Homo sapiens: one gene and its partners. The protein of the gene in region 1 purifies or fractionates together with the protein of each later gene. This does not show direct contact. Each region holds a gene or a part of one and is shown in the gene's direction. Other genes may lie near its edges.

Region 1 (5,243 bases):
TGGTCTGTGTTTACGGAGGAACAGGAATCAGTGAGCAGGTAGTTATATAAGAAACATTCATGTTTTCCATTCTTTTCTCAAGTTGGATGATTCAATAAAGTAAAAGTGACTTTTACTTTTAGTTTTTTGAATAGTGATTGCTTCTAAAATCATTTAAAAAATGAAGTATAAAAATAATAGTAAGAATTAGTTATTTTATGTAGGATGAATACCTTTGGAGATGTAATGTACAGCATGGTGACTAGTTAATGTTATATTGTGTGCTGAAAATTCGCTAAGCCAGTAGATCTCACATCATGTTTTTTTTTTTTCTTTTTTGAGATGGAGTCTCGCTCTGTCACACAGGCTGGAGTACAGTGGCGCGATCTCGGCTCACTGCAACCTCTGCCTCCCTGGTTCAAGCGATTCTCCTACCTCAGCCTCCCAAGTTGCTGGGACTACAGGTGCCTGCCACCACGCCTGGCTAATTTTTGTATTTTTAGTAGAGACGGGGTTTCACCATATTGGCCAGATTGGTCTTGAACACCTGACCTCAGGTGATCCTCCTGCCTCGGCCTCCCAAAGTGTTGGGATTACAGGTGTGAGCCACCGTGCCTGACCAATCTTACATGTTCTTACCACAAAAGAAAATATTGGTAACTATATGAGGTGATATGTTAGCTTGATTGTGTTCATCATTTCAGAGTGTATATGTATATCAAACATGTTGTACACCTTAAATATATATAATTTTTGTTAATTATGACCCAATATAGTTGTGGCAAAAAAGAACATACTATGTTAATGCTAGATTAGAATTTTTGAATCTTTTTACATAGATTATCCCTCCTCCCTCTTCCCCTGCCTGAGAAAGCAGATTTTTTTTTTCATTTTACATATGAGGAAATATTCAGAAAGATTTATTAAGTTGACCAATTAGGTTAATACGTTCTAGAGTTTGTCCTGGAACCTAGGTCTCTGATCTCTGAGCATTTGTTTCTCTAATCTATGCTGACATCTTTAAAAAGTGATGGTGGCCAGGCACGGTGGCTCATGCCTGTAATCCCAGCGCTTTGAGAGGCCGAAGCGGGTGGATCATGAGGTCAGGAGCTCAAGACCAGCCTAGCCAACATGGCGAGACTCCCCGTCTCTACTGAAAACACAGAAATTAGCCTGGCTTGGTGGCGCCTGCCTGTAATATCAGCTACTCGGTAGGCTGAGGCAGGAGAATCACTTGAACCTGGGAGGCGGAGGTTGCAGTAAGCTGAGATCACGCCACTGCACTCCAGCCTGGGAGACAGAGCAAGACTCCATCTTGGGGGGTGGCGGAAGTGATGGTGATTACTGGGATGCATTAATATCAGAGGTGTTTTGTTGTTGTTGTTGTTGTTGTTTTTTGGTTTTGTTTTATTGGAGACAGCATCTTACTCTGTTGCCCGGGCTGGAGTGCAGTGGTGTGACCTTGGCTCACTGCATCCTTGACCTCCTGGGCTTAAGCCGTCCTCCCTCTTGAGCCTCCTGAGTATCTGGGACCACAGACGCATGCTACCACACCCGGCTAGTTTTTGTATTTTTTTGTAGAGACGAGGTTTTGCCATGTTGCCCAGGCTGGTCTTGAATTCCTGGGCTCAAGCAATCTGCTTGCCTTGGCTTCCCTTTGTAACACCTCCGAAAGGTATAGACGTGAGCCACTGTGACCAGCCCTTCAGCTGTCTTCTAAAGAATGAAATAGTTTTCAGATATTTTGCTTAACTAGAAGAAGGCAAAAAAGTAGGTTCTGTGATTGGATAAGTTTTGGAAATGTTGGAGTATAAAAAGTTAAAACCACTTTCTTTCCTGTAAGACTTCTTTGTTCTTAATAAGCTAATGTATATTGTGTTGCTAGATAAATGGGATAAATTAAGTGACGTTTTCTGAACTTAACTACAAAACTGTTTCTTAGGACTATTGTTACAAGAACACACTTCAAGAATATTTGCTTTTGTTAACTCCAGTGCTATTTTAATTACTTCAAATTACTTCATTTTCTAAGTTTATCTTTATGATTTTTCATGACTGTAGTTTGTAGAAATACACTTACAAAATAACATGGTACATGCCTGCACGTTGTATTTATATAAATGCCAAACAAAAGTTTTATGATGTTAAGGGACTTCTGGTATTTTCCATTCCATTTCATTTAAAAAATGCTGGTTGTGGTTGAACACTATGGCTCATACCTGTAATCATCACAGCATTTTGGGAGGCTGAAATGGAAGAATCACTTGAGTCCAGGAGTTTGTGACCAGCCTGGGCAATGTAGTGAGACCCCATCTCTTAAAACAGTAAATAAATTAGCGAGTGCCTGTAGTCCTAGATACTGGGAGGGTGTGTGGGGTGGTGGGGGGAGGGGCTGAGATGGGAGGGTCACTTGAGCCCAGGATCTAGGCTGCAATGACCTATGATGACACTGCTGCACTGGGCAACAGAGCCTGGGCAACAGAGTGAGACCCTGTCTCAAAAAAAAAAAAAAAAAAAGCTGATTATGACTGTTAAAGTGATTTCATGATTCACTAATGTGGCAACCCTCAATTTGAAAAACACTAGTCTATGTGGTCACTTAGAAATTTCTTTTTCTGAGGCAGGGTCTTGCTCTTGCTCAGGCTGGAGTGCAAGGATGTGATCATAGCTCACTCCAACCTTGAACTCCTGGGCTCAAGAGATTATCACTTTTTTTTTTTAAACTGCTTTCTTAAGTTCATTTCTTGGTTTTGAGGGATAGTGGCAAATCAAATTTGCAGAATTCTCTAGTTCTTATTTGTTTCAAATTTATGGCACTATGTGGTCACGTTGTTGCTATTTCTTTAGTAGTGCCCCGAGATTCAAAATAATTAAGCAGGAAGCTTGGAAGTCTTCTAATTAGACTAGGCAAGAACTAAATGCAGTATTTTTTAGTGTTTAAGTAAGCATTAGTAATAGACTATAAAGTTTCATCTTTTTTATTAGATTGCTGAGCTGAAAAGAGGTGCTGAAATTATTGTTTGCACACCTGGTCGAATGATTGACATGTTAGCCGCTAACAGTGGTAAGTCAGGGGTATTTTTTTGGTGTCTTTTATTTTTGAATTCTTTACTTTTTTTTGTTAAAACAGATGCAAGAAACCAACAAAGGGTTTCTATATTTCTTCTTAAAGCTGCAGTATCTTAAAATTTGTAGCCTGTAGTCCCAGCTACTTGGGAGGCTGAGGCAGGAGAATAGCTTGAACCCGGGAGGCGGAGCTTGCAGTGAGCCAAGATCGCACCACTGTACTCCAGCCTGGGTGACAGAGTAAGACTCCGTCTCAAAAAAAAAAAATAATAATTGTAACAAGTTGATTATTACAAGCATTAATGATATTTTTGCAATTTAAAATTTTTTTTCAGAAGTAACTCCATCTGATCATAACTTGGATTCTTAATCCAGTTTTGGCCTGGCTTTGCTTAGTAAAAGAGTGGGGTAGTAGCTTTTTCTTTATTACAAAATTTAGACTTTTTCTCCACATGAGCTAGTATTTTCTTAGATACTACATAAATTAAGATATTGCAGCTTCAAGAAATTTTATCTTTTGTAAATATTGCATGTTTGTAGCTCAAATGTTATGCTTTGTTAAATTATTCCCTATCAAAACTCTTACTAAACTGTTGACATTATTTAACTTCTGTGGAGAAAGGCCCTTCAAGATTTATAGAACTGGGCTTCCGAGACTTAAACCATCAAAGGTAGGTAATTTAATGCTGTTCCCGACCTTGCAAAACTAATTGGGGCTACAAATGCTAGTGTGGAATACTTAAATATTAGATAGCACTTATTTTGGCACTTTTTATTTTTTGAAGAAAATGCTCTCAGAGGTTTCCATTGCAATATTTAGTGTGTACATAATAGAGTATTAAAAACTGAGTTAGTGCATGTTTCTAGTAGTATTCTGCTTGAATTTCTAATTCTAATTGTACATGAAGTTGGCAAAGTGACATCGAAATTGAGAAGTCATTGTGCTTGTCTAGCATATGGAAAGTTTTGGTTTGAATGCTGATTAAATAATCCCTTTTTTTTTTTCTCAATGCTGCATTGATTAAGTCTCCTCCTGAAATTCATCTTGATTAATTTTACCTTTTTCTCTTATCTGTCATTGTGGTCTATTTTTAAATAACTATTTTATACGTGTTTTTGCCAGGTGATTGATTCAACAGTTGATAGCAATGCTTCTGTTAATATTTTAGAAGGAATTTCCTATGTATGTATTTTGTTTTCACTGGTTAGGAAGCCAGTTGCATTTATTTAAGTCAGTGGGTTCACTTAATAAAATTGGGATTTATATCTTTGTATGGAAAATGTATTTATGTAATGTGTTTTGGTATTTAAAGTTTTTGTGTGATACTTTAATTTCCTAATGCTGTCAAATAGCTTCTCATTAAGGGTTTGACATGCCCATTTAAGAAGCTTCTAAATATATGGAAGTAGGTTATAAAATAATATAGAGAGACATTTTCTGTGTCTAAAATAGTTAGCACTAGAACTTGCTTTCCACACATACGCTGTAATCTCTAATATGTTTTTTTCTAGGTGATGCTGTCAGATAATGGCTGATGTGGCTCGATGCTTCATCTCAGTCTTAGTTTTATGATGTGTTTTGGAGAGGGCTGTTTTCTGAATTTTACAGGTTCTTCAGGCCCTATGATGGTATGCAAGAGACGAGTTTGACAAAATAAAGGGCCTCATATACCCATTGTCAGAAAGTATTTGCCACTAGATTAAGACATTGTAGATCAAAATTTCTTTTCACTTTTTAAAGATACCTAACTTACCCCTCTGGTTAAGTCAGGCATTTTAGTTTCCTTTACAGTTTTTAAAAGTTCTTGGTAGCCATAAAATGAATTGTGACTGATTTTTAGTTTTCTTTTTGTCTTTATTTTTCTTTTCATCTTAGGTCGGGTCACAAATCTTCGAAGAGTGACATATGTTGTTTTAGATGAAGCAGACAGAATGTTTGACATGGGTTTTGAACCCCAGGTAATCATTAAATTTCTTAAGTGTTTTGAAATGTAAATATAACTTTGTAGTTGCCATGAGAATGAAATGTTCATGTGGTTTCTGAAATTCACACACACACTTTTCTGTTGCACGGTAATACAGAAGACTGGGGACATACAGTATTGAAGTACATATTTATGTTTCAGATTCCTCACAAAACTTCTTCAGGAGGTATTTATACCGGCATTTCTTAGCCATCTAAGACCAACACCAACAAA
Region 2 (3,352 bases), on another chromosome or scaffold:
TGGCGTCTGTCCCTTGGCCAGCATTGCCCTAGGCCAGGTGGGCGGCTGCCCCCAGGAGCACTGTGTACCAGGATGCCTGGAATTCCACCATTAGTCACTCTGTAAGGCCCACGGGAAGACTTTGGAAGAATTTGAGACGTGCTTGAGAAAGCACATTTCTCTTCCCTGAGTTGCATGAGTGCTCTGTGGTCACTGGAATGGTGGGCAGTGCGGGGCGGTCTGTGCAGTGATCAGGAACACCAAACAGTCCCAGGGTGCCATCCTTCCTTCTGGGCCACCCCGAGAGGCAGGCCTGTGACTGGGCCCTGTGCACCTAGACCAGCCCCATCCCCAGGGACCTCTCCCCTCAGGACTGATGTCTTTCCTGGAGAGAGTCACTGGGTGAAGCAGTGAGTCTGAGCCTCCTTGGCCAAGGGTCTGAGTCTGCAGGCATGTAGGGGCCGTGCCTCGCAGGAGGAGGCATCCCTGTTTGGAGATGAGGGCTCTGGGTATGTCATCTTCCTGGGACTCCTGGGTCCAGTGGGGGATTGGGTCTGGTTGGCCAAGTGCATTGAGCCCACATTTGCCCTGATCCACTTCTGGCTTTGTGGTTCCTGAGGCTCTTGTCCCAAGCCCAAGCCCAAGCCCATGCCTATGTGCCCGTCACAGGGGCTAGACGAGGCTCCTCCTCCCTCTGGCTGCCCTGAGTGGTGGGCCCCTGGGGCTGCATGGCTCCAAGGGCAGAACCCCAGGTGTCTGCAGTAGCCAGCTGTGGCCTCCCTCCTGTTGCAGAGCCCCTGCCCCTCAGCCGTGGATGCTCAGGGACAGGGCCATGGGTCACTATGTGGCTCTTATGGCTCCTTGAGGCCCAGTTCCTGAGGCCACGGTGCCATGTGTGGCCCCCGTGGGTGCTGACTGGCGGCTGCAGGCGGGGTGGCAGGTGGGCAGTGGTGAGAATGCCTTCTCCCTACAGGTTCCAGGCCCTGATTCCCTGACCCTGGGGGACGACAGCATCCGTAGCCTGGACTTTGTGTCCGAGCCGAGCCTGGACCTCCCTGACTATGGGCCAGGGGGCCTGCATGCAGCCTACCCGCCATCCCCACCGCTCAGCGCCTCTGATGCCTTCTCGGGCGCTTTGCGCTCCCTGAGCCTCAAGGCCTCGAGCCGGCGGGGCGGGGATCATGTGGCCCTGCAGCCCCTGCGCTCTGAGGGGGGGCCCCCCACGCCCCACCGTAGCATTTTTGCCCCCCATGCACTGCCCAACCGCAACGGCAGCCTGTCCTATGACAGCCTGCTCAATCCTGGCTCGCCTGGTGGCCACGCCTGCCCTGCCCACCCAGCAGTTGGCGTGGCCGGATACCACTCACCCTACCTGCATCCTGGGGCAACGGGCGACCCGCCACGGCCCCTACCCCGCAGCTTCAGCCCCGTGCTGGGCCCCCGCCCCCGGGAGCCCTCGCCTGTGCGCTACGACAACCTGTCCAGGACCATCATGGCATCCATCCAGGAGCGCAAGGACAGGGAGGAGCGTGAGCGCCTGCTGCGCTCCCAGGCCGACTCACTCTTCGGCGACTCAGGCGTCTATGACGCTCCCAGCTCCTACAGCCTGCAGCAGGCCAGTGTGCTGTCCGAGGGCCCCCGAGGTCCCGCGCTGCGCTATGGCTCCAGAGACGACCTTGTGGCTGGGCCCGGCTTCGGTGGCGCCCGCAACCCTGCCCTGCAGACGTCACTGTCCTCGCTGTCCAGCTCCGTGAGCCGTGCACCGCGGACGTCGTCCTCCTCCCTGCAGGCTGATCAGGCCAGCAGCAACGCCCCGGGGCCCCGGCCCAGCAGTGGCTCACACAGGTCACCTGCACGCCAGGGCCTGCCCTCCCCGCCCGGCACTCCCCACTCACCATCCTACGCGGGCCCCAAAGCTGTCGCCTTCATCCACACGGACCTCCCAGAGCCACCGCCCTCGCTGACCGTGCAGAGGTGGGTGCCGGGAGGTGCGGGTGGGCTTCCTGGCACAGGGCAGCTGTCCAGCCGTCTCCAGGGCCCCTCTTGGCTGGGCACTCATAGGTCATCCCAGGGGCCTGAGTTTTTCTCTGGGGACGGGACAGGGAGGATGCGCCTCACCCTGCCTTGAAGGCCTTGGCTAGCCCGTGTGGCCCAGCTCTGAGGATGTCCTGGGCACGCTCTGGGGACAGGGTATGAGAATTTGTGTCCTGAGCCCGACGACTCGTTCTTCTAGAGCTGGCACAGACCCAGCATGTGGGAGGCCATGGGGCTTTCTCTTTGGGGCCAGTATCATGTGGCAGCCTGGGCCTCCTTTAGGCTGTGGCTCTGGCTTCCTGGGTCACAGTGGCCCTGTCCACCCAGGGCTCTCCCTGGGCCTGCTTGGCTGCATCTCTAGGAGGCTGGGGCTGAGGATATTACCTAGCAGCAGAATGTGCCACCCTGAGTGGCCGGGCCCTGGCCCTCCCTGTAGGACATAGTTCTAGGAAGCAGGGGCTTCCCTGCTCGTAGGTGGGGAAGCTGAGGACTGGAGAAAGCAGGCTGGCTCCAGGCACCCGGCAGGTTGGTGACTGAGAAGGCGGGGTCAGCTGGCTCACAGGCCCAGGTCCAGGTAGGAGAGCTGCACACCTGCTGGGGCCAGGACCCACGCCACAGACGCATGGTGTCCTCACGGCATCTGTCGCCCTGTCCGGGCCTGGAAACCTCAAGCACAGGCGCAGTTGTTTCCCGTCGGCAGATGCAGCCCCAGAGGGAGAGCCCAGCCCAGCCCAGCCCAGGCCACTTGGCCACAAAGGGGCTGAGGGCACAGCAGTCCAGCCCTGAGCGGGTCTCCTCTACCCCACAGGGTGGGACCTGTTCAGCTTTTGTGGAGTTGGGGAGGAGGCTGCCACTGGGAGTGATGAGTGGGGAGCCCGAGACCTAGAAGTGGGCAGCATTGCAGCCAGGCAGGGATCGCAGCCCGGGGACAAAGGGCTCTCGCCTCAAGAAGGTTTAAGTAGCAAAGATACAGCTGCTGTTGGTCAGCGCTGGTGGGCAGGAGGGCAGCCCCTCGTTTTCCTGAGAGAGAGCAGGAATGAGGCCAGGCAGAGTGGCTGGGCTCCCAGTGCAGGGCACGGCAGGGGCTCCATTCAGTGCCCACCTGGCTGCCCCATGCTCTCTGTGGCCAGTGCTGGCTAGGAGGGACCCAGGGACTCGGGAGGGTGGTGGCAGTTCTGACAACATCTGTCTGTCCTGTGACAGCACAGCTGCTCCCCAGGCAGGCTCTGCATCCCTCACCTGCTTTCCAGGTGAACCCTCCAAGCCCAGAGGGCAGGGACTGCACGGGGCCCCACAACTCGGCTGCACTAGTCCACGTCCGCGTCGTCTCTGTCTTGCT
Region 3 (3,500 bases), on another chromosome or scaffold:
TGGCAACTTTGGGAATAAATGGCAATTCCCACGGGCTTGGCACTCCCAGATTCCCATCTGTGATTTCGTGTGTCCCCCAGAGCCCCTTCATCCAGGGACCCAGGGCTCAGGTCACATCTCTTTCTCGGGGGTGGCTGGCAACCAGCCCCTCTGTCTCAGAAGCCCTGATTTCCCTGACCCTCCCAGGTCAAGGGATGGCTGGGTTGAGGGTGGACTGTGCGAGGCCTGGCGGAGCTGTAGCCCACACAGGTCCAGGTGGTCGGGAGGCCACTCATGGCCAGACGCTTCCGGTGCAGGAGGCCTTGCTCTTGTGTTGAGGGGACACCAGGATGAGGTCAGAGAGTGCACTGGGGTTCAGGGAGGAGAAGAATCCTGAGAGATGGCACATGTGCAACACAGGTCACCGTCGCCATCGCCCGGGCCCACCGCAAGCATCACTAATCCATCCCTGCACTCCTGGAAAGCCGGGTCAGCCTCTGCCGGCTGAGCTGAGTGGACCACCAGGCGCCTCCTGGTTGTCCTCTGTGTGCTGTTTTCCTCTGTGTGCTCTTGTCCTGGGCTGGACCACACCTGGTGAGACTATCCGGGAGAATCCTCGGGCCGCCTTGTGAGGGGGGTGTTGCTGTCATCTCCAGGGCTAGGTGACAGCTTGTTGCAGGCCCCACAGCCAGGGCCTCAGGGATGGGGATCTGGCCATGTCTGTTTTAAGCCGAACAGGCTGTTCTTCCATGTGGAGTCTCCCTCCGTGATCCCCTGGGGTCAAGTCCTGACGGCTGGGTTCGCTCCCTCAGTGACTCCGACAGCTCTTGTCTCAGAGGTGCTGGGGTGAAGGCTGTGTGGGGCCAGGCCCCTGGGGTCAGACTTCTTGCCCCTTCTGCCCGGGGGACGCTCTGGGCTCAGGGTGGGGCCAGACAGCTACATCACAGGGACACTTGTTATGGGTCGGGGTCCAGGGAGCACCCAGCCAGTGGAGTGTTGGAGGCCACTGAGAGGGACATGACTGCGGTGTCCGAGCAGCGTCGTGGCCACCCTGTGTGCCCACTCCCTGGTGGACAGACCTACGTCACCTGGGGATTGCAGAGCAAAAGGAGTGCTGTTGGGGTGATGTGAGGTTGGGGTTCTGTTTCTTGCTGTGAATTGGGTCATGACCTGTGTCGGAGCGTTCTCTGGCCTCCACTTGCCCCTGCAGACCAGGGTGTCTGGAGGGTTGTCGGGGGCTTGATGGAGGAATTGCTGACCACACCATGCAGGAAGAGGTGGGTCCCAGGGACACAGGAACTTTGGGGTCAGCCGGTTCCAGATTCAGTTGCAGAGGAGCATCCCCCTTGCTTAGCCAGGGAGGGGAAGCCCTCTTCTCACACCCGGCCTGGGTATGTTGTGGGAGAGTCATTTCCCAGGAGGAAATGGGGACTGTTACCGGGGGAGGGGGTGCTGTCCCCAGGCAGCAGCAAGCGTCCCTTACGCTTGGGCTGTCCGAGACCCTGCTGCTCTAGGCGGTTGTGATGGGGGAGCCCCACAGGGCACAGAGAGCCAGCTGAAGGCGGCAGCTCTGGGTGGGATCACATGGAAAGGGGAGGCGAGCCGAGCCTCCCTCTTGCCAATCTTGGTCTCCCCACAGGGTCATAGCTCCTGGGCCCCTCACTTGTCAGACCCTCCATTCACCAAATTAAGGATAAGTTTCACGATTTCGCACTGCGGAGCCTGCACTCCCTTTCTCTTCAAAAAAGCTGAGGACGAAGATAAAATGATACAGTTGGATTAGTCCAGTGGAGGGGTTAAAGGTGTGAGGCTTTAATTCTCCCCACCATTTCCTCATTTGGCAAAACAGAGAAGACAGGATTGAAAAACAAGACAAAAACCCAGAGGCTTGCACATAAATTTGGGGCTTAACTACAGCATCTTCGGCATCTTCTTTTCCCTACAGTGCGAATTACAAAGTAGCACCACAGATCTCGTGTCTCCTACTTTATTCCTCTTTCTAGAATATTCCAGCCACCAAAGTGCTCAGCAGGAGCTGCTGTGTAGGAGTCCCCCATGAGGCCCAAGCACCTGAGCTTAGTGACATACACGGTTGAACGCTGGGAGAATGCTGGGAGCCTGCTGTTGTCCCCGATTGAGGGCTCCCCCCACTGTGTGTGTATCACTCTTTCTACAGCAGATGTGTCTCTCTCCCCACAGTGGGATGGCGAGCTTGTTAAATGGCCGTGAGGAAGACTTTATTCAGGACCATCGAGACAGGTACAGGTACCATCAGTGGATGGAAAATCACTAAGAGCAAACCTCAGGGGTCCGGGGGTTTTCGGCTAAACCCACCTAGCAGGATTCTTGCTGAAGGCAGGCCAGGGTGATCAGAGGTCACCTGGGGATGGTGGAGGCTGAAGAAGCCTATCAGATGTGAGGGTGGCGGGGGTTGGGGGGGATGGCGGCGGGGTTCATTTGCTGAAAGGATTTTACAAGGGCATGCACGGATGGGCCTAGGAGGAGGTTCAGATCCCTCAGGTTTGGCTAAGCAAGAGTCATGGTGGTGCTCCCGGCTGGCTCTCAGGAGCAGATGTGCTTCTGACCCGACGTCTTCCCCCAGAGAGGGCTGAAGTGGAAAAAACCCCAGAATTTCTCCCTGGGACAGGTGAAGCGATGGGGCGTGGGACATTCCTGGGTCTCGACTCTGTTCAGGGCCTAGGGGTTGGGTGGGGAAGGCACTTGAGGGAACCTTCCTGGAGCCCGTAGGAGCTTCATCCGAGCTCCTGGGTCACCCCGCCCACCAGAGTCCAGGCCCACCAGAGTCCCCTGCCACCTGTGCTCACCCTAGCCTTACCCCTCGCTCTACTCCCGCCCTCGCCCTATCCTCGCTCCTCGCCCTACGCTTGCCCCTCGCTCTGGAGCTGCGATGCCAGCCTCAGGGCTTTCAGTCCTGCCTTGATCTTTTTTTATACTGAAACTCAATTTTACACACACAAACCCACTCCCAGCCAGCCTCTGCCTTTTGCCTTTTCCTCATGTTCTCATTGAATAGGAAGAAATGCCCTTTTTTTTCCCCCCTAGAAGGAGTCTTGCTCTGTTGCCAGGCTGGAGTGCAGTGGCACGATCTCGGCTCACCGCAACCTCCACCTCCCGGGTTCAAGCGATTCTCCTGCCTCAGCCTCTCGAGTAGCTGGGATTACAGGTGCCCACCACCACGCCCAGCTAATTTTTTTTTGTATTTTTAGTACAGACGGGGTTTCACCATGTTAGGATGGTCTCGATCTCCTGACCTCGTGATCCGCCTGCCTCGGCCTCCCAAAGTGCTGGGATTACAGGCGTGAGCCACTGTAGCGGCCCCCACCCCATTTCATTTTTTATTTTTTTATTATACTTTAAGTTCTAGGGTACCTATGCACAACGCGCAGGTTTGTTACATATATATACATGTGCCATGTTGGTGTGCTGCACGCATTAACTCGTCATTTACATTAGGTATATCTCCTAATGCCTTCCCTCCCGCCTCCCCCAGGCCCTTAGTT
Region 4 (3,500 bases), about 13 Mb from region 1:
AATATTCCCGAGAGTTGCGTAAGACATCTTGTATCAGTCTGTTTGGTGAAGAATGTAGCACATTTAGAAAATTGTAACATTTAAGCTTGCATTTTTCTGTTTTTGACTGAATTTGTTAAAGTGCTAGGCTAATTTGAGTCAAAATTGTGCCAAACTAAATTCATCTATGTTTAATAATGCCTCCTGCCTCAGGTTTTTATTTTTACTGTAACTTTAGCACGAAGTCAGTTCAAGAATTAAAGTCTTCATGCTATTTGGGAATGTGGATGGTGATATTGGTGGCTGACATCATGCTTTCCTTGTTGCCAGCTCAATAAATTTTTATGTATTGGTATCGGCATTTTATTCAGTTCTGTAGTAACTTCAAATAAAATTAGTGTTAGACCAATGTGATCCCATATTTTTGTTTTTTTTTTCAGTCAGACTCTTCACTAGCATAATTTTTAGGTCTTCTTGCTGCTCTTACTTTGAGGAAACTTTCATTTACCAAATGACATGACATTAAATGTCTGGGAGACTGTTTTACTGTAGAACTTAAAAACAACATTTGGTCCCAGCAATTTTCTTAATTGCAGGGTCATTTTGCATGCATGTTTGCCTATTATATTTTGGTATAACTTTCAAGTTTTGAATTAAGTAAAAGAGAAATAAAACTCTCTAACTATTTTAATTGAGTTAAGTTATCAAAGATTCTCAGCCTTTCTTCCTTTTAAACGGATAGTAAAGTGTTTAATAGGACAAAGTTATCCCAGTTAATCTGAATAAAAACATCTAGGAAACGACTCTTTGATATGAAGTATATTTGTTTCTTGTGTTCTTCCTTCCCTCTGCTGCACACTATTATAAAATTCATGGAATCCATCTGATATAACTTTTATTTCTCAAGGTTATAATTCCCTTTTTATTCAGTCCTTCAGGAAAAAAAAGTCTTCTGTATTTGACTGTCAGTGATCATTTGTGTCTCTGTGGTTTGCAGATTATTTAGTTTTTTCATATACCTTTTTAAAATGATATTCCTATGAGAAATAAAATCTTTAGAGATTTTGTCTTGAGAATAGCAATAAAATAGGAAGTTACAATTTATCTCTTTCACTTTCTCTTAACCAAGGTTCTTACTAAATTACATTGCCTACCTAAATTTTTCCCTGTAATTTCTTCTGAATAGTCATTTTTGTAGTCTTAAATTATTCAGAGGCTTTGAGCTACTATATAATTGCTGATTTTATTTTACCATGGAAAGAATGCAGTGTGTGTGTGTATGCATGTATATATATATATAATATATATATGTGCATACACATACACATACAATGTATAGTTGGCTACTCTGACTTTAACTTCTTTTGTAATACTGTTTAAAAACTGGAGTAAACTGGAATTTGTTAAATTTTTTATATATATAAAAAATATATACATACACACACACTACATTCTTTCCATGGTTTGTTATATATAATAACTTGTATGTGGTGTATGAAGAGTTTGAGAACAAAAGATACTCAATCTTTAGAATACTTCCCTTTTGTAAATTTCAGTGATACATTTGATTAATTAGAAAGAAAAGTTGTCCTTTTTGATCTAAATGTAAAGCCTGTTTTCTGTTTCTTGTTTTGAATCTCATCAGCAAAGGGAAATCTGATTCAGTGATAAAGTTTGTAGGTTTACAAGATTACCACATCACTATCGTGGTTTGGTTTGGTTTGGTTTGGTTTGATTTGTGTTCTATTTTTCCCTGTGATTGCGCAATGGAATGGTTGCATCATAGAAAGCCAAATTCATAGCCTATGTATTCCTTAAATTCATAAAATTCATAGTATATATATGTCTTGAGTTTGTGGCAGGAGTTAGGGCAGGCTGGGTTGGCTACTCTGACTTCAACTTCTTTTGTAATGCTTTTTAAAAACTGGAATGAATTTAAATATAAAATGAATACTAGAAAGACTATATATTTGCTGTTCTTACGTGTCAAATTTTATTCCTTATTTATGGTTCTTTTACAAATTTTGTTGTCTTTTCTAAACAAAGCAAATAAATAAAGCATTTTTCTTAATTAAAAGGTCATTTGTAATTTTCTTAGGAAATGGTTATTACCTACTTGGGAGTATCAAATAAATGATGACAAAACAAACTCTCAATCTCAATTAAATTTGGAGAAAAGACCTCTGCTCATTTATTTTTCCAGAGAAATTTTTTCCTTGGCTCAGACACTGCTTCATTTTTATAGTCTTATTGATGACATACTATCCTATTCTTGCTTTCTATAATAATAGGGTATTTTGTTGCAGGATGACTTCTTTGTGAAGAAATCATGAGTATTTTTAGAAATGAGAGTTTGCTTTTTCTGGCCAACTAAGAAAAAAAATTGGCTTGATCTTTACACTATAAAATCATAGGTTCTAATTTTATAGACTATGGTGTATGAAACCCAAGTCTTTGCTGCCTTTTCTATAATAGTGTCCATACTTTTAACTTTGATATTAGTAGAAATATTGCCTTCTAAAACAGTTTCTTTTTCTTTGAAAGTTAGTTAAATTAGCCTATCAACACTTATAGATCAGTAAGTTACTTAACTGGAGAAGGAGATGGTAAAATTCAAGCATATACTGAAATTACTCAAAATGTGCAACAAGTCTCTTACTCAATAATAAAAGTAACAACTAGCTTTTACTGAGCATTTACTATGTGCCAGGCATTATATTATGTGTTTTATATTTACTGTCTCACTAGGTAGATATCATTTTTATCCCTGTCTTACAGAATAAGAAACTCAAGCTTAGAGAAACTGAGCAACTTATAACTGATTATAAAGCTAATTATGTTATCCACTGTAGTATACTGCTTCAGTAAGTTGAGAACATCCTATGATATATCCAGACTCACTTTCCTAGATATTGGAGGAGATAATTTAGTAAACATGAAACTTGCCATCTAGGAAAAAAAAGACTGAAAGATGTGCAACGTGTTTTCAGATCCTTTAATTCCTGACAGGTAAATATACACAGTAGCCTATATCTGTATTTCTTTTTTTTTTACTTGAGATGGAGTCTCTCTCTGTCGCCCATGCTGGAGTGCAGTGACCCGATCTCTGCTCACTGTAACCTCCGCCTCCTGGGTTCAAATGATTCTCCTGCCACAGTCTCCTGAGTAACTGGGACTACAGTTGCCTGCCATCATGCCTGGCTAACTTTTGTATTTTTAGTAGAGACAAGGTGTTGCCATGTTGGCCAGGCTGGTCTCGAACGCCTGACCTCAGGTGATCCGCCCACCTCGGCCTCCCATAGTACTGGGATTACAGGCGTGAGCAACCACTCCTGGCCTATCTGTATTCTTTTTTAACCTCTTCCTCTCTTAAGGCTGTTACTTCTTCCTATCCTGAATATTCTTTAAGATGAGAATTTATGTATTCTTCTTTGAGACCTTGTTCTGCCTGCTACCTCTTACTTCTCCTCTAGTTTAAAACTTTCTCCTTTTGTTCTATTCTTCCCCTAGTTTTACATTCT

Evidence for each region.
Region 2: the proteins of DDX46 (region 1) and ZDHHC8 fractionate together in Homo sapiens (co-fractionation; one large-scale study listed by BioGRID). This does not show direct contact.
Region 3: the proteins of DDX46 (region 1) and EPN1 fractionate together in Homo sapiens (co-fractionation; one large-scale study listed by BioGRID). This does not show direct contact.
Region 4: the proteins of DDX46 (region 1) and SRFBP1 purify together in Homo sapiens (co-immunoprecipitation; one large-scale study listed by IntAct). This does not show direct contact.

What each region holds. Positions count from the first base shown.
Region 1 is NC_000005.10:134,785,549-134,790,791, forward strand, and holds part of DDX46 (probable ATP-dependent RNA helicase DDX46), read left to right. Parts: coding exon 1-38; intron 39-2,964; coding exon 2,965-3,043; intron 3,044-3,667; coding exon of another isoform or gene 3,668-3,720; exon of another isoform or gene 3,721-4,066; intron 4,067-4,557; exon of another isoform or gene 4,558-4,674; intron 4,675-4,921; coding exon 4,922-5,004; intron 5,005-5,243. UniProt on the Homo sapiens protein: Component of the 17S U2 SnRNP complex of the spliceosome, a large ribonucleoprotein complex that removes introns from transcribed pre-mRNAs.
Region 2 is NC_000022.11:20,141,804-20,145,155, forward strand, and holds part of ZDHHC8 (palmitoyltransferase ZDHHC8), read left to right. Parts: intron 1-952; coding exon 953-1,953; intron 1,954-3,352. UniProt on the Homo sapiens protein: Palmitoyltransferase that catalyzes the addition of palmitate onto various protein substrates and therefore functions in several unrelated biological processes.
Region 3 is NC_000019.10:55,695,726-55,699,225, forward strand, and holds part of EPN1 (epsin-1), read left to right. Parts: 3' UTR 1-3,500. UniProt on the Homo sapiens protein: Binds to membranes enriched in phosphatidylinositol 4,5-bisphosphate (PtdIns(4,5)P2). Modifies membrane curvature and facilitates the formation of clathrin-coated invaginations. Regulates receptor-mediated endocytosis.
Region 4 is NC_000005.10:121,975,475-121,978,974, forward strand, and holds part of SRFBP1 (serum response factor-binding protein 1), read left to right. Parts: intron 1-3,500. UniProt on the Homo sapiens protein: May be involved in regulating transcriptional activation of cardiac genes during the aging process. May play a role in biosynthesis and/or processing of SLC2A4 in adipose cells.